Regions from separate parts of the Homo sapiens genome. Here region 1 is linked to region 2. Evidence: fine-mapped expression QTL. A gene starts in region 2. The other region holds a variant in brackets. All regions are shown on one strand. Distances are from middle to middle. Region 1 has its middle 20 kb from the start of THAP1. Region 2 holds the start of FNTA (farnesyltransferase, CAAX box, subunit alpha).

Region 1 (9,410 bases), 230 kb before region 2:
AGGTTTCACTGTGTTAGCCAGGATGGCCTCGATCTCCTGACCTCGTGATCCACCTGCCTCAGCCTCCCATAGTGCTGGGATTACAGGCATGAGCCACCGCGCCTGGCTGGTGATGTTTTGGTACACAGAATCTTTAGTGATCAGATCAGGGTAATTAGCATATCCTTCATCTCAAACCTTTATCACATCTTTGTATTGGGAAGTTTCAATACCCTCCTTCTGTTTATTTGAAACTATATAATTTATTTTTATTATATATATAAAATATTTATTTTGATTATATATATATATAAAGTGACTGATTCTTTCAAGACAAGCCCCGCCCCCGCTCCCCCCTCCCCCGCTTACCCACCACCTTGTTTTAGCATAAACAGCTTTCCTCTCAAGCCAGGAATTCCTTCCACAATGTCGCAAACCAATGATCATGTAAGATTTTCTTTATTATGCCCAGGGATGGCAAACTCATTACTTCACAACGCGATCCATGACACTCTTGGACAAGTCTAATTATTTAAATATTTCTCCTTATAAAGGGCCAAAGTCTGCCTTCAGCTTTTCTTTCTTTCTTTTTTTTTTTTTTTTTTTTGGAGACAGAGTCTCGCTCTGTCCCCCAGGCTGGAGTGCAGTGGCTGATCTCGGCTCACTGCAAGCTCCGCCTCCCAGGTTCGCGCCATTGTCCTGCCAGCCTCCCCAGTAGCTGGGACCACAGGCCCCCGCCACCGCGCCCGGCTTTTTTGTATTTTTAGTAGAGACAGGGTTTCACCATGTTAGCCAGGATGGTCTTGATCTCCTTGCCTCCTGATCCGCCCGCTTTGGCCTCCCAAAGGGCTGGGATTACAGGCATAAGCCACCGCGCTCTGCCTGCCCTCAGCTTTTCTTTTTGAGGCTGGTTTATTTCACTTAGCGTAACGTTCTCAAGGTTCGTCTGTGTTGCAGCATTTGTCAGAATTTCCTTCTTTTTAAGGCTGAATAATCCATTCATCTGTTGATGAACACTTGGGTTGCTTCTGCCTTTTGATTATTGTGAATACTGCTGCTATGAACATGGGTGTATAAATATATCTTTGAGTCTCAGTCTTTTTTGTTTGTTTGTTTTTGTTTGTTTTTAAGACAGAGTTTCACTCTTGTTGCCCAGGCTGTAGTGCAATGGCTCAATCTCAGCTCACTGCAACCTCTGCCTCCCTGGTTCAAGCAATTCTCCTACCTCAGCCTCCCTAGTAGCTGGGATTACTGGCACGCACCACCACACCTGGCTAATTTTGTAATTTTTTTTTTTTAGTAGAGATGGGGTTTCGCCATGTTAGTCAGGCTGGTCTCAAACTCCTGACCTCAGGTGATCCACCCACTTCTGCCTCCCAAAGTGTTGGGATTACAGGCCTGAGCCACTGCGCCTGGCCGAGTCTGTTTTTTATTCTTTTCTGTACTCAGAAGGGAACTTGCTGGATTCTATCAAAGGGTAATTCTGTGTTTAATGTTCTGAGGCACTGCCCTATTGTTTTCTACAGCAGTGCACGGGGGCTCCAATTTCTCTACATCCTTGCCAACATGTATTATTTTCTATTTTTTGATAGCAGGCATCCTAATGGGTGAGAGGTGGTGTTTCATTGTGGTTTTGGTTTGTGTTTCCCTTATGATTAGTGATATTGAGCATCTTTTCATTTGCTTATTGGCCATTTGTTTATCCTCTTTGAAGAAATGTCTACTCAAGTCCTTTGCCCATTTGTTAATCAGCTTGTTTCAGACTAACATGTTTTAATTAAGAAGCTGAAACATGAAGTTTAATAGGTAAAAATTTGTACTTGTATTTTTAAATGGAAGGAAAACTGTATTTAAGAAAAAAAAGAGGCCAGGTGCAGTGGCTCACGCCTGTAATCCCAGCACTTTGAGAGGCCGAGGTGGGTAGATCAACTGAGGTCAGAAGTTTGAGACCAGCCTGGCCAACATGGCAAAACACCATCTCTACTAAAAATACAAAAATTAGCTGGGCATGGTAGTGTACGGCTGTAGTCCCACCTACTCGGGAGGCTGAGGCAGGAGAATCGCTTGAACCCAGGAGGTGGAGGTTGCAGTGAGCTGAGATTGCACCATTGCACTCCAGCCTGGGCAACAAGACTGAAATTCCGTCTCAAAAAAAAAAAACCAAAGAAACAAAGAAAGAGTAATAATAGCTTTAAAAAAAAACGGTCGGGTGCAGTGGCTCATGCCTGTAATCCTAGCAGTTTGGGAGGCCGAGGCGGGTGGATTTTCTGAGCTCAGGAGTTTGAGATCAGCCTGGACAATATAGTGAAACCCTGTCTCTAGTAAAAATACAAAAAAATTTAGCCAGGCATGGTGGTGCATGCCTGTAATCCCAGCTACTCGGGAGGCTGAGGCAGGAGAATCGCCTGAACCCGGGAGGCAGAGGTTGCAGTGAGCTGAGATCATGCCATTGCACTCCAGCCTGGGCGACAGAGTGAGACTCTGTTTCAGGAAAACAAAACAAAACAAAAAACCAGGTTGTTGGGGGAGAAGGGGCTGGGAGAAAATAGTGGAGAGAGAGGGTGGGGAAAAGGGGCATGCAGAGGGGCTGGAAAGACAGCCTTGGGGAGAAGAATGAAAAGGAGATGGTGGGGAGAAGAGGATGGGAAGACAGTGGGGAGAAGCAGGTGACAGGGTGGGGAGTAGCAAAAAAAAAAAAAAGATGATGTAGGCCAGGCACGGTGGATCACACCTGTAATCCCAGCACTTTGGGAGGCCGAGGCGGGCGGATCACGAGGTCAGGAGATCGAGAGCATCCTGGCTAACATGGTGAAACCCTGTCTCTACTTAAAATACAAAAAATTAGCCTGCTATGGTGTCAGGTGCCTGTAGTCCCAGCTACTCAGGAAGCTGAGGCAGGAGAATGGCATGAACCCGGGAGGTGGAACTTGCAGTGAGCTGAGATCGCGCCACCGCACTCCAGCCTGGGCGACAGAGCGAGACTCCATCTCAAAAAAAAAAAAAAAAAGATGATGTATATATTAAAATTTGAATTTGTCATCCATGTGTTTTAGCCTCTAGAACATCTTTGTGAATGAGGAATTTTTTTTGACATTGACATTTTCTAGACATGATCTAAAAATGTAGACTAAGTTTTCAGTGCATTGAAGATGGGGAAGGGCAATTCTTTGCCCCAGGTTTTGTGTGTGTCCATTTATGAATGAACTAAACTCATGTTTTTTCATAGCTGTGAGCCTATTCTGCAAAGAATTAGAAGCAAGTTCAAGGGTGTACAGCTTGCAGCTCAACCTTGGAAAACTTCCCTGAGGAGTTAGTACAGAACAGAAAATCCAGTTCTCTGTCCCCAGATGCATAATTCATCTGCCAGCAGAGCAGCTTTTAGATGAAAGGGCCCCAACAGAAGTTTTGGTAGAAAATGACACCAAGAAATGGTGAGTGTTTGGAGATCAGGCTCTTAAATGTTACTCAACTTTGCACAAATATTTGTAAACTTTCCACATGTCCTGAAATTTGTGCAAATAAGTTCACAAAGTCATTTCCAAATTGCTTCTAGTATTTAAAATACTTCCTCAGGGAAAGCTGGAATTCGGCATATTAGAAATGTGTAACCATTTCTTATTCTTAAGAGTCTGAAACCCTAGTTAAGCCCTGGTTTTCCAGATTGTTTGCTTTTATAAAGAATGCTGCCATATATGATAAGCATGGTTTTCTTCACCATATATATCTAGCACAAGGTGTCCAATCTTTTGGCTTCCCTGGGGCACATTGGAAGAAGAATTGTATTGGGCCACAAATAAAATACACTAACACTAATGATAGCTGATAAGCTTTAAAAAAAAGTTTTAAGAAAGTTTATGGGCCAGACACAGTGGCTCATGCCTGTAATCCCAGCATTTTGGGAGGCCATGGTGGGCAGATCTCCTGAGGTCAGGAGTTTGAGACTAGCCTGGCCAACATGGTGAAATCCCTTCTCTACTAAAAATACAAAAATTAGCCGGGCGTCGTGGTGGGTGCCTGTAATCCCAATTACTTGGGAGCTAGTACTTGAATATCACACAGAACCATAAACCGGGTGCACGTCTTCTCCTTCCTTTGTCAAAAGATCATAGGGTACTTCCCTTGAGGCCAAATGCCCAGGCTGGGAGAGAGAAGGCAGTGTAGCAGAAATAGGAACTGGAAATAGGAACCATTGGGGTCACTTCTTCATATAACTTACTTGTGCCTTTAGGACGTGCTTGGGCCCAATCATGTTTATACTACTTCCATTTGATAATGAAGTTCTTCTATGCATGCCCAACTTTATGGTTTAGTGGGTCAGATGACATCCAGTTTATAATAGGCAGCTCAGGTTGCATGGTAACTTGGCGGCCTATGGTCAAACATTCAGTTTCTACTAAAGCCCATTAGCAGGTCAAGAGCTGTCTCTCAAAACGAGAGTATTTATCTGTGGATGATGGCAGGGCCCTGCTCCAAAGTCTTAAAGGCCTGCACTGTGATTCACCTATGGGGTCCTGCCAAAGTCTCCAGACGGCATCCCTATATGGCACAGACACCACACGCACCATTAGATCCACTGGATCATATGGCCCAAGTGGCAAAGCTGGCACAACAGCCAGGACCTGTTGCAGAGCTTTCTCCTATTCTGGATACTACTCAAAACTAGCAGATTTTTGGATCACTCGTGAATGACCCAACATAACACACCCAAATGAGGAATATGTTGCCTCCAAAAATCTAAATAGGCCAACTAGGCATTGTGCCTCATTCTTGGTTGTAGGAAGGATCAGAAGCAACAACTTCATCCTTCACCTTAAAAGGAGTTTGTTCTTCTTTTTTCTGTGTCTTAAGGTTATTGAGATCTTTCTTCTTTTTAAAAATATAGGTGTTTACAGCTACAAATTTCCCTCAAAGCACTGCTTTAGCTGCATACCAGAAGTTTTAGTATTTTGTGTCTTCATTTTTATCTATGGCAAAGTATTTTCTTATTTCTCTTGTGACTTCTTCTTTGACCCATTGGTTGTTTAAACGTGTTTTAAAATTTCCACTTTCTTGTGAGTTTATCTAATTTATCGTTATTGATTTCTCATTTTATTCCATTGTGGTCAGAGAATATACATTATGTCAGCAGCCCCTAACCTTTTGGCACCATGGACCAGTTTCTTGGAAGACAATTTCTCCATGGACTGGGAGTGGGGGATGGTTTCGGGATGAAACTGTTCCACCTCAGATCATCAGGCATTAGGTAGATTCTCATAAAAAGCATGGACCCTAAATCCGTC[A/G]CATGCACAGTTCACAACAGGGTTCATGCCTCTATGAGAATCTAATGTCCCCACTGATCTAACAGGAGGTGGATCTCAGGGAGTAATGCTTGCTCGCTTCACCACTCACCTCCTGCTGTGTGGCTTGGTTCCTAACAGGCCACAGACTGGTATCCATCTGTGGCCCTGGGGTTGGGGACCCCTGAATTATATGATTTAATACTTTAAAACTTAGTGAGATTTGCCGGGAGCGATGGCTCACGCCTGTAATCCCAGCACTTTCGGAGGCTGAGATGGGCGGATCATGAGGTCAGGAGATCCAGACCATCCTGGCTAACACGGTGAAACCCTGTCTCTACTAAAAATATAAAAAATTAGCCGGGCGTTGTGGTGGGCACCTGTAGTCCCAGCTACTTGGGAGGCTGAGGCAGGAGAATGGCGTGAACCCAGGAGGTGGAGCTTGCAGTGAGCTGAGATTGAGCCACTGCACTCCAGCCTGGGCGACAGAGCAAGACTCTGTCTCAAAAAAAAAACAAACTTACTGAGATTTGTTTTATGACCCAGTATGTGGTCTATCCTGGAGAATGCTCCATGTGACTTGAAAAATATATATATTCTCTATGGTTGGGTGCAATATTCTATAGAAGTTGGCTAGATCCATTTTGTTTATAGCACAGTTAAAGTTTTCTCTATCATTATTGATCTCCTGCTTAGTTGTTATATCTAATATTGAAGGTGGAGTACTGATGTCTTCAGCTGTTGTTCAATTTTTGTTGAATTCTCCCTTCATTTCTGTGAGCTTTTGCTTCATGTATTTCAGGGCTCTATTGTTAGTTGCATATGTGCTTATAATTCTTATATCTTCCTGATAGATTGACTCTGGTAACATTACAAAATTCCCTTTATATCGAATAACATTTATTTATTTATTTTATTTGGTTTTGTTTTAAGGCGGAGTCTCAAAATTTAGAACTACCTGTATGAGAAAACATGCTCTTCCACGTTTCTTGCTTGTTTACTCTTTTTTTTTTTTTTGGAGACAAAATCTCACTCTGTTGCCCAGGCTGGAGTGCAGTGGCATGATCTCGTCTCACTGCAACCTCTGCCTCCCGGGTTCAAGCATTTCTTCTGCCTCAGCCTCCCAAGTAGCTGGAACTACAGGCACGTACCATCATGCCCAGCTAATTTTTGTATTTTTAGTAGAGACAGGGTTTCACCATGTTGGCCAGGCTGGCCTTGAACTCCTGACCTCAAGTGATCCACCCACCTCGGCCTCCTAAAGTGCTGGGATTACAGGCGTGAGCCACTGTGCTCGGCCTCTAATAACATTTTTAAAAGCCTATTTTGCCTGATATTGCCATACCCACTTCACATCTGTTTTAGTTGTTGTTTGCATAGTATGTCATTTCCATCCTTTAGCTTTCAACCTATTTTTATCATAAGGCTAAAGTGTGTCTCCTGCAGACAGCATATAATTGGAGCTCGTTTTTCAATATCCAGTCTGACAGTCTCTGCCCTTTGATTAGATCAGTTCACATTAGATGCTATTATTGGTATAGCTGGATTTACATCTGCCATTTTGCCTTTTAGTCTCATGTCTTATTTCTCTAGTCTTCCTTCACTGCTTTCTTTTACATTAAGTAAACATTTCTAGTTTAATATTTTAATTATTTTAATGATTTTCTTCACTACACTTTGGACTTATTTTCTAAGTGGTTGCTATAGGGCTTACCATATATATCTTATTATAATCTACTTCAACTTACCAGTGTGATATTTTGCTGTATATAGTTCCACTACCTCTTCTCCCATTTTGTACTATTATTAATATACATGTTACATCTACATGTTACAAACCAATAATGCATTTTTATAATTATTGTAATAATTTTATGTCTTCTGAGGAAGCTCAAAAAAAGGGTGAGCAAGTATGTATGTATTTATTTTTTAATTTTTTTTTTTGAGACGGAGTCTAGTCCTGTCACCAAGGCTGGAGTGCAGTGACGCAATCTTGACTCACTGCAACCTCCGCCTCCTGGGTTCAAGTGATTCCCCTGCCTCAGCCTCCAGAGTAGCTGGGACTGCAGGCGCCCACCACCACGCCCGGCTGACTTTTTGTATTTTAGTAGAGACGGGGTTACACCATGTTGGCCAGGCTGGTCTCAAAACTCCTGACCTTGTGATCCACCCGCCTTGGCCTCCCAAAGTGCTGGGATCACGGGCGTGAGCCACCACACCGGGCCACAAGTATGTATTTATAGTTTAATTAATTTTTGATTTATTATTTGTTTCTCCACATTTCTTCCTATAGATTTAAGTTCTCATCTGGTGTTCTTTCTTTATTTCAGTACAGCTTGCTTCTCATCTGCTTCTTACTATCAAACATATTACATTTCTCTATGTTACAGGCCTAACACTAAAATTATATATACAGTTTTTGCAGTTGCTTTTAAATAAGAAAAAAGATGCAGCTATGTGTCTTTCATAATTATTTACATAATTATCTTTTTTTTTTTTTTTTTTTGAGACAGAGTCTCGCTCTGTCGCCCAGGCTGGAGTGCAGTGGTGCAATCTCCGCTCACTGCAAGCTCCGCCTCCCGGGTTCACGCCATTCTTCTGCCTCAGCCTCCCGAGTAGCTGGGACTATAGGCGCCCGCCACCACGCCCGGCTAATTTTTTTGTATTTTTAGTAGAGACGGGGTTTCACCGTGTTAGCCAGGATGGTCTCGATCTTCTGACCTCATGATCCGCCCGCCTCGGCCTCCCAAAGTGGTGGGATTACAGGCGTGAGCCACCCTGCCCAGCCTACATAATTATCTTTACTGGCAATCTTTGCTTTTTTGAATTACTGTTAGGTGTCACTTGCTTTCAGCCTGAAGAGCTTCCTCTAGTATTTATTTTAAGGTGGGTTGGCTAACAACAGATTCTATTTTTCTTTTTCTGAGAATGTTTCTACTTAATCTTCATTTTTGTAGATCAGTCTGTTTCTCCTTTTAATTCTGCCAATTTTTGTATCATATACTTTGGTGGTCTGTTATTAGGTGCAAAAATGTTTACGATTGCTATGTCTTTTGGTGTATTAAACTTTTTAATTAATATATAATACCTGCTTTGTCTCTTGTAACTTTTTTATTTAAAGTCTATTTTATCTTCTGTTAATACAGCCACCCCAGCTCATCTTGATTACTATTTGCATGAAATATCTTTTTCCATCCTTTCACTTTTAACCTGTTTGTGTCTTTGGACCTAACATGAGTCTCCTACAGGTAGCATGTAGTTGGGTCTTGGGTCTTGTTTTTATTTTTGAGACGGAGTTTTACTCTTGTTGCCCAGGCTGGAGTGCAATAGAACAATCTTGGCTCACTGCAACTTCCACCTCCCGGGTTCAAGCAATTCTCCTGCCTCAGCCTCCCTAGTAGCTGGGGTTACAGGCGACTGCCGCCATGCCCGGCTAATTTTTGTATTTTTAGTAGAGATGGGTTTCACCATGTTGGCCAGGCTAGTCTGAAACTCCTGACCTCAGGTGATCTATCCGCCTCAGCCTCCCAAAGTGCTGGGATTACAGGCATGAGCCACCGGGCCCAGCCGGGTCTTGTTCTTTTTTTAAAAAAAATCCATTCTTCTAATCTCTGTCTCTTGATTAGAAAGTTCAATACAATATATTTAAAGTAATTATTGATGAGGAGGGACCTACTTCTGTCATTTTGCTATTTGTTTTATAAATGTCTTATAGCTTTTTTGTCCCTTATTTCCTGCATTAGAATCGTCTTTGGTGTTCAGTTGATTTTTTAATAGTGAAATATTTTAATTCCTTTCTCATTTTCTCTTGTGTATAATTCTATAACTATATTCTTTGTGGTTACCTTGCGGATTACACTTAACATTGTAAGGTTATAACACTCTAATTTGATTTATGTCATCTTTTATCTCAGCTTAACTTTAATCCATACAAAAACTCTACTCTGTTACAGTTCCATCCTCAGTTATTGATGTCTCAAAATTACATCTTTATACATTGTGTGTCTAAAAATAAAAACTAATTATTTTTAATGCATTAGTCTCTTAAATTATACAGAACATATGTGAAGTTACAAACCAAAGTTACAATAATACTAGCCTTTAGACTAATAATCATCTTCTTTTAAATGTATTAGTCTCTTCAATAATGTACAA
Region 2 (9,410 bases):
TGGGATCATTTGTAATATCCTTTATAATAAACCAGTAAACATAAGTAATGTGGTTCCCTGCATTCTATGAGCCATTATAGCAAATTGTCAAATGTGGGGTTGCAGGAACCCCTGATTTATAGCCAGTTTGTTAGAAGTTCAGGTGATAACCTGGGACTTGTGACTGGCATCTGAAGTGGGAGAGCAGTCTTGTGGGACAGAGCCCTTAACCTGTGGGGTCTCCACTAGCTCAGGGTAGTTAGTGTCATAACCGAATTGTAGTTTACCCATCTGGTGTCAGTAGGGTTGGATGATTGCTTAATGTGAAGGAAAACCTCACATATTTGGTGTCAGAAGTGTTGTGAGTAGAGGAAACAAGTGTTTTTCTTTTTTTTGAGATAGAGTCTCGCTCTGTCGCCCAGGTTGGAGTGCAGTGGCATGATCTCGGCTCACTGCAACCTCCTCCATCTCCTGGGTTCAAGCAGTTCTCCTACCTCAGCCTCCCAAGAAGCTGGGATTACAGGTGCCTGCCACCATGCCCAGCTAATTTTTGCATTTTTAGTAGACACGGGGTGTCACCATGTTGGCCAGGCTGGTCTCAAACTCCTGACCTCAGGTGATCCGCCTGCCTTGGCCTCCCAGAGTGCTGGGATTACAGGTGTGAGCCACCGCACCTGGCCGTCTTTTTCTTTTTTTATATTTTTTTGAGACAGGCTCTCACTCTGTTGCCCAGGCTGGAGTGCAGTGGTGTGATCATGGCTCATTGTAGCCTTGACTTCCTGAGCTCAAGTGATCCTCCCACCTCAGCTTCCTGAGTACCTGGGATTACAGGCACATGTCACCACGTCCAACTAATTTTTGTATTTTTTTAGAGTTGGGGTCTGGCTATGTTGCCCAGGCTAGTCTCAAACTCCTGGCCTCATGTGATCCTCCTGCTTTGTCCTCCTAAAGTGCTGTAATTACAGATGTGAGCCACTGTGCCCAGCCATGATTTTCTTTTAACCACACTTATTAGTGTATGACCTTTAGTTCATATGTTTCATTTTTGCATAGTATTCCATTATATGACTATACCACATTGTACTCTTGATGAGCATGTTGGTTGTTTCTGGTCTGTGGCTATTACAATGTGTTTCCAGTACTGTTGTTCTGTGTTCTGATGCATGTGAGTGCATCATTTAAAAAAAAAAAATATATATATATATATATATATACATCTGGCCAGGCACGGTCGCTCACGTCTGTAATCCCAGCACTTTGGGAGGCCGAGGCAGCTGGATCATGAGGTCAGGAGTTCGAGACCAGTCTGGCCAACATAGTGAAACCCCATCTCTACTAAAAATACAAAAAATTAACCAGGTGTGGTGGTGTGTGCCTGTAATCCCAGCTACTCGGGAGGCTGAGGGCTGAGGCAGAAGAATCGCGTGAACCTGGGAAGCAGAGGTTGCAGTGAGCCGAGACCATGCCATTGCACTCCAGCCCGGGGAACAGTGTGAGACTCTGTCTCAAAAAAAAAAAAAAAAAAAAAAATATATATATATATATATATATATATGTATCTTAGCATTACTGGGTGTCTTAGTCGTTTTGTGTTACCATAATAGAATACCTGAGGCTGGTAATTTATAAAGAAAAGAGGTTTATTTGACTAATGATTCTGGAGGCCAAAAGGTTCAAGACTGGGTAGCTTTATCTAGTGAGGGCCTCAGGCTGCTTCAACTCATGGGGGGAAAGTGGAAGGGGAGTAGTATGTGCAAGGAGATCACATAGCAAGAGGGGAAGCAAGAGAGAGAAACCAAGGAAGACAGCTAATCTATTCTGCAAGAGCAAGAACCCACTTATCCTTGAGGTAGGGCATTCATCTATTCATGAGGAATGACCCAAACAGCTCCCACTAGGCCCTGCCTCTCAACCCTGAATGAGTTTTGGTAGGGACAAAACACATCCAAACTATAGCACTGGGTGATAACAATGTGTATCTTTAGCTTTCCTACATAATGCCAACCTATTTTCCAAAGCCACTTGGAATTGTTAAGCTTTTCCATTTTTGCCAACGTAGTGGATGTGTATGGTATATAAAGATATTTCTAATTTGCATTTTCTTGATTACTAATGAGATTGATCATCTCTTCATGCATTTATTTGCCATTTTGGGTTTTCTGTTTTGTGCAGAATCTTAAGCTTTTATGTTTTGCCTTTCACATTGAAGTCTATGTAGTATAACGTAGGGATGCAATTTCTTTTCCTCTGTGGGTGCCCAATTGACCCAGCACCATTGTTCAGAACACCGTCCTTTTCTCAATCTTCTGCAATGAAGCCTTTGTCTAGTCTCAAGCATCCACATATGCATGGATCTGTTTGTGAGTTCTCTACTGTGTCCCATTATTTGATGTAGCTATTTCTGCCCTAATACTATACCCTATTTGAACAAAAAGAGGATGATTTAATGCTAATATATGGAGTGGAGAAATTCAACAAGGCCTGTCTGTTCAGGTTTCCTTGGCCTCACTGTTCCTCCCTGCAACACCCAGTGGAAGAGGAGCCCTCTGGAACTAGGGTTTAGTTTCTTTACAGCCAGCTGTCACATAGAAAGGCAGGGCTGGAGGAAGGTTAGAGTAGTATTTTCAGGTGCCACGGCTGGCTTTGGGGGAAAAGGGTTCTGGTTTCTATGACCTGCCAGGGGGAAGAGAGATTCTAGTTGCTGTGGCTTGCTTCAGAGAGGATGAGTGGCCACAGAGAGGAGGGCAGGAGAAGGTCAGAGAGAGACTGTGATTGTGAAGCTGATGCTTAGACCTTCATTTGGGATATTCTTTTCTGAGCCCCAACAACATACATTCATATGACCCATTGTTAATGAAAAGAGTCAAACTCTGGAAAATATTTGAAGAGATTTATTCTGAGCCAAATATGAGTGATTAATGGCCTGTGACACAGCCCTTAAGAGATCCTGAGAACATGTGCCCAGGGTGGTTGGGGCACAGTGGGGTTTTATACATTTTCGGGAGGCATAAGACATCAATCAAATACATGTAAGATACACATTGGTTCCTTTGGAAGGACAAGACAACTCAAAGTGTAGGGAGAGGGGTGCTTCCGGGTCCTAGGCCGATTTAAATATGTTCTGATTAGCAATTGGTTAAGTTGTTATCAATAGAATGTCCAGGTTGTGATAAGGGGTTGTGGAGACCAAAGTTTTATTATGCAGATGAAGCCTCCAAGTAACAGGCTTCAGAAAGAATAGATTGTAAATGTTTCTCATCAGACTTAAGGTCGGCCTTGATGTTAATGACCCACCCTCACCCCCACCTCCTTCCATCATGGCCTGAACAAGTTTTTCAGGTTAACTTTGGAAAGCCCTTGGCAGAGAGGAAGGGTCTATTCAGATGGTTTGGTGTTGGGTTCAGAATTTTATTTTTTGGTTTACACCATTATATCCGATCATATATAAATACAAACAAAAACTTCACCAAATATTACTTTCTTTTTCTAATGGTGTGTGTGTTTTGGGACAGGATCTCTGTCCCTCAGACTGGAGTGCAGTGGTGATTTCTGCTCACTGCAGCCTCAAACTCCCAGCTCAAGCGATCCTCCCACTTCAGCCTTCCGAGTAGCTGGAACCACAGGCACCCACATGATGCCCAGCTAATTTTTGTATTTTTGGTAGAGATGGGGTCGCATTAGATTGCCCAGGCTGGTCTCGACCTCCCTGGCTCACATGATCCTCCCGCCGCGGCCTCCGAGCGGCTGGGATCAGGCGTTAATCACCGCGCCCGGGCTTTATATTTCGTTTTGAAAATGCTGAGATGGACGCAAAGGGCTGAGTGCTCAGTGTCCCCCAGTCACCCTCAGTTGCAGCTTCCGTCCAAAGAAGGAATCGCCCTCTCCCTGCTGGGGCCACTAACAGCACTAACACGGTCCGAATGGCATCGGCAAAGCTCGGGAACGGCGACAGATGGGAAGACGCGTGGGAGCCTGGGGGATCTCGGGAGAGCCGCGCAAACTCGCGGCGGACGCAGCCAGCACCCGCAGCCAGCACCCGCACACTCCCACCCATACCCCGGCAGCCCGCCAAGACTCTCTGGCCCGCACCTCTATGGTAGGAAACCCAGAAAACAGGAAGTGGCCTCGAGAGGGGGAAGGGAGGGGCGGGGCCTCCGCCACCACCTCAGCTGCGGACCGAGGCGAGATGGCGGCCACCGAGGGGGTCGGGGAGGCTGCGCAAGGGGGCGAGCCCGGGCAGCCGGCGCAACCCCCGCCCCAGCCGCACCCACCGCCGCCCCAGCAGCAGCACAAGGAAGAGATGGCGGCCGAGGCTGGGGAAGCCGTGGCGTCCCCCATGGACGACGGGTTTGTGAGCCTGGACTCGCCCTCCTATGTCCTGTACAGGTAACGCCCCCGCGGCGGCCGCGGCTCGGGACACTCCCTGGAGGCCCAGCGGCCCCAAGACCCGCGGCGCGCGCTTCCGGCCCCGGCGCGCCAGGCCGAAGTTCCCGTGGCGCCGCGTGGGCCGGTGCATGGCGCTGGGCCCGGGCGGCTGCCGGGACGTCGCCGCTTCCCAGGGCGGCGCCGGCGCGAGACCGCGGGGACGCGAAGCAGCGAGGTCTCGGCTTTCCGCCTGCTTTAAGCCACGCGGAAACTGCTGCACCCTTGACTGCACTCGTTCAGCTGTTCAGGCGTCGCGATTCGTAAATATAAGAAATTTCCCGCTCTCTTCCACGGCTTCCCAGAACGCTGTGTCGCTAACAACCAGTGAAGACCCAAGGGCTAGGGTGCAGTTCTGGTAGCCGGGCAGGAAACCAGGGCCAGATTTGCTCACCCTAAAAACGAAGTGTGAGGGCTTCCAGTGGCTGGCTCTGCTTGGAGCCCAGAGACATTTTCATCCAATCTGTATTTTAGCGCCTCGTATCAGCCAGGCTAAAGGCTGAAAAGAGATTTGCTACTGAACCTCTCTTAAGTCTCCCTGCATCGCCTCGTACATAATACAAGTGAGGTGTACTGGGGACTGCGGTAACTTTCTTGCCTCTGTCACCCCGTCTTTGCTGACACCCAGTTCCATCAGTTCTTTGCTTTCAGATGGTAATGTTGATTCCTAATTCCCTGTGAACCTGCAGAGATAATCGCCTTAGGTCTTACTTCTGTAGTTCTAGGTAAATCCATTCGATGGCTTGTTTACCTTGATTTTGTGAATGAGTAGAAGTCACTACCCATATATATTTTTTTGATTGGAGATAGTGTTTTACTGATTTAAATTGGTAGCCCCATAATCCTCAAGTCTGCTCTCTGGATTGTGAAATACTCAGGTTCTCACGTGACTGTGGGTGATTTCCTGGTGACTAAATACAGCCTTACCTTTCCCAGGCCACTCCCCCAGGCTCTAGGTGTCACGTCTTAGGTCATGATTTCACTTGTATTTCTCCCTGTATAATGGACACAATTACTAGCATTGCGCATTGGATGCCACAGAATCTCTGCTGTCAACAGCTGATCATTATAGAGAAATAAAAAGTGAAAGGAAGGGCCGGCGCGGTGGCTCACGCCTGTAATCCCAGCACTTTGGGAGGCCGAGGCGGGCGGATCACCTGAGGTCAGGAGTTCCAGACTAACCTGGCCAACATGGTGAAACCCTGTCTCTACTAAAAATACAAAAATTAGCCGGGCGTGGTGGCGGGCACCTGTAATTCCAGCTACTCGGGAGGCTGAGGCAGGAGAATCGCTTTAACCCAGGAGGCAGAGGTTGCAATGAGCGGAGATTGCGCCCATTGCACCACAGCCTGGACAAGAGCGTGACTCCATCTCAAAAAAAAAAAAAAAAAGTGAAAGGAAAAGAATATAAGTGAAAGTGTTTAAGAGAAATTTTGTTACACTGGGTAGGTAGTTCACAGAAATTTCTGTAAGCACTCACTGTTGTCACTATACAGTTATTTTAGCATTGCTTATTAAGTAGTCATTGAATGCCGCCTGTGTGCTGTGGATGTTTTAAGTGCTTATCTCATTTAATCCTCCAAATACCCTTCTAAGGTTGGTAGGTAATAATACTGCCCTGATTTTATAAATGGTGAAACTGAGGCCCCAATAAGTAACTTTCTGAAGGTCACACAGCTATTAAGTGCTCCAGCCAATGTTACGACTTAGGCAGTTGTCAGATTCCAGAGCCTGTCTTATTAATGATCACCTGCGCCACCTCTTGAGTAAATTAATAGTACTTATTTTTATCTTAAAATGTCAATTCCTAGTATTTTGTTACTCAAACGTTTTAAAAATGCTGACTGACTCAAAGAATCTTACTAGACCAATGAGTTAGATTGATTTCTAAGTTAAAAATACTGTGAGGCAGGGAGCGGTGGCTCACACCTGTAATGCCAGCACTTTGGGAGGCCGAGGCGGGCGGATCACCAGGTCAAGAGATTGAGACCATCCTGGCCAACATGGTGAAACCCCATCTCTACTAAAAATACAAAAATTAGCTGGGCTTGGTGGCGCCCGCCTGTAGTCCTTAGTCCCAGCTACTCGGGAGGCTGAGGCAGAAGAATTGGTTGAACCCAGGAGGCAGAGGTTGCAGTGAGCCGAGATGACACCACTGCACTCCAGCCTGGGCGACAGAGTGAGATTCCGTCTCAAAAAAATAAAATAAAAAAAAGTACTGTCTACTTGCTGCAAAAACTTATTTTTCTACTTATAAAACTTTAAATTTGAAAACTGTTGATTAGCTTTTCAGCATCTGAGGGTTATTTGTTTTAATTTTACTTTAATAGTTTAATGTGTAAAACATATTGGCAAAACTTGGTCATGAAGAATCCAACCATGATTACATTATGAGCCCTGTAAGTTATTAATATCAATGTAACTGTAATTATTGTCATTTTAAAAACACTAGAGTCCCTTTTCTTCTGTATTTGAATGTAACCACTGGTTGGGGAATGTCTGTTTTCAGGGACAGAGCAGAATGGGCTGATATAGATCCGGTGCCGCAGAATGATGGCCCCAATCCCGTGGTCCAGATCATTTATAGTGACAAATGTAAGTTTGTTTATATTAGGAAAAGGTCTGTAAGTTAAATATAGTAGCAGAATTGGAATTCACAACTATGTAGCAAGATAGATGACAAATTTCTGTCTAATAAAAATCTGAATGACTTAAGATGAGTTAATTTTGTGTTTTTTTTATGTGTGTGTGTGATTTAGCTTTATGATTAAAAGTTTTATTTTGCCCAAAGACTGGACATATTCTAAATAATAAACGTTACAGTATAGTAGATAATAGCTACTATGTGATTGTGGTTTTCTTTTCTTTGCTGGAGACTCCACCGCCAGGGAGATTATGCATGTACCACACAATATAAATGAGTTACTGTTTTTAGAATAAACTTTGGTTGCTGAAACATCAGGATTTAAACATATATTTTGGCAGTGAAGTGTTCAGCTCAGTTGGAATACATTTATTGATATTAAAATGAGTGGATTTTTTTCTTTGACAAAATATTCTTTTGTAATGAATGTGAAAGTGTAAATTGAAGGTCGTGGAAATGTTAATTGTTAGTTCTTCTAGGAAAGGGAAAATGAATAAAATGGAATGATAGTTTTGTAATTTTATGTATATATATTTCTTTCAGTTAAGGCTTTTCTAAGATCATTCTTTTACAAAAGCATTTTTTTTCTGCTAATAAAATGACAATAAATGTTTAAAAAAGCATAATGATAGGTTTGCCGTATTAAGTGTGCAGATATATTACTAAACTTAATGATTAAGTGGAAGTAGCACAGAAGTAGATTTGTAAAGACTCGAGAAATAGATCCTCACTCTATGAAAGCTTAATATGTGATAAAAAGGACATTTTATACCTTTATGAAAAGGGTGGATTAATCAAATAATGGTTGGAACAGTTGGCTGTGCACTTAGATAAAAGCAGAGTTGTATCCCTATCATTCTTAGGATGGAGAACGTATTAGGCAAGATGTAAACCTCAGAATCGATTAAGGAGAAGGTCAGAATATATAACTGCACGGAAATGCAAAACTCTCATACTTTGAGAGATAGTATATATGAAGAGACAATTCACAAAATAGAAATATCTATGAAGAGATATTAACCTTACTAGTGATCAGAGAAATATAAACCATAACTTATTCAGATTCATAAGTACTTATAACAGAGATGTTGGGGGAAACTAATATAATCATATGTTTCCATTGAGGATAAATTAACCTTTTTGCAAGGTATAAAATTAACATTTTGGGCCAGGCGCGGTGGCTCACGCCTGTAATCCCAGTACTTTGGGAGGCTGAGGTGGGCAGATCACCTAAGGTTAGGAGTTTGAGACTAGCCTGGCCAACGTGGCGAAACCCTGTCTCTACTAAAAATACAAAAATTAGCTGGGCGTGGTGGCAGGCGCCTGTAATCCCAGCTACTCAGGAGGCTGAGGCAGGAGAATTGCTTGAACCTGAGAGGTGGAGGTTGCAGTGAGCCACGATCACGCCATTGCACTGTAGTCTGGACGACAAGAGCAAAACTCTGTCTCAAAAAAAAAAAAAAAAAATTAACTTTGTGAATTCTTACATACACCATGGTTAGAAACCCTAAAGGAAAAGATAAGTTTGACCTGTCAACCGTTTATAGACAAATATATCAATTTAAAACTTACACAGCAGAAGAAACCATGAGCAAGTTAAAAAGCAAGCAGCAGTGTGGAAGAAGGTATGTCATTTAAACAGGATCCATATTAAAACTGAGACGTTTTTACAACAGGATAAGGAGACAGAGAGTTTAATCAAAAAATGGACAAAGGGTATGAACTGGCAATTCACAGAAAAGAAAATCCCATTGGCCAATAAAATAGGAAGAATCCTTTATCATTAAGAATGACAGGTTAAAATGAGAATTCCATTTTCCACCCATGATTTAAGTGGCAGAAATGAAAACTGTCTTGATATTATATTAGGTATTAAGATATATGAAGAGCTCCATACATTTCATATGGGATTTTTCGAATGTTTAGCCATTTTGGAAAGTAGTTTGGTATATCTGTTAAAACTGGAAAATGCACTTATCTTACAACCTAGCAGTGTGTTGCTTCTAATTTAATATTGGGTTCATTCTGGCACATGGCATGAGAAGATATGCACAGGAGGTTAAAAGCACAGACTTTGGAGCCAGACCATCTGGTTCAAATTCTAACTTCACATTTTACTGACTGTGTAATCTTGGACAAGTTATTTAACTCCTATGTGCCTCTGTTTCCACCTGTGTAAAATGAGGATCTTGGTAGTAACTATAGATGTAGTAAATTATTTACATAAAATAGTAGAATACTGTCTGGCTCATAGTAAGCACTATATATGTTAGCTACTATAATTTGCAGCATTTTTTGAAAAAGCAAGATATTGGAAGCTATATGTCTATCTTTTGGAGAAATGGATAAAATAAAATGTATCATT

Evidence for each region. PIP is the estimated chance that this variant, and not a neighbour inherited with it, causes the effect. A credible set is the group of variants that fine-mapping cannot tell apart.
Region 1: its variant is the best candidate, but not a certain one, in a credible set for the expression of FNTA in whole blood (TOPMed, PIP 0.60).

Annotation. Positions count from the first base shown.
Region 1 is chr8:42,819,043-42,828,452 of GRCh38, forward strand. No RefSeq gene overlaps it. Among named protein-coding and RNA genes, the nearest start is that of THAP1, 20 kb to the right of the region's middle. The variant A/G (reference allele first, on the strand shown) is at 5,259.
Region 2 is chr8:43,052,182-43,061,591 of GRCh38, forward strand. FNTA (farnesyltransferase, CAAX box, subunit alpha) reads left to right here and starts at 4,142. Exons shown (of 9, transcript NM_002027.3): 1 at 4,142-4,365; 2 at 6,911-6,996. The coding sequence starts at 4,166. RefSeq lists an enhancer at 3,771-3,960 and a silencer at 4,091-4,660.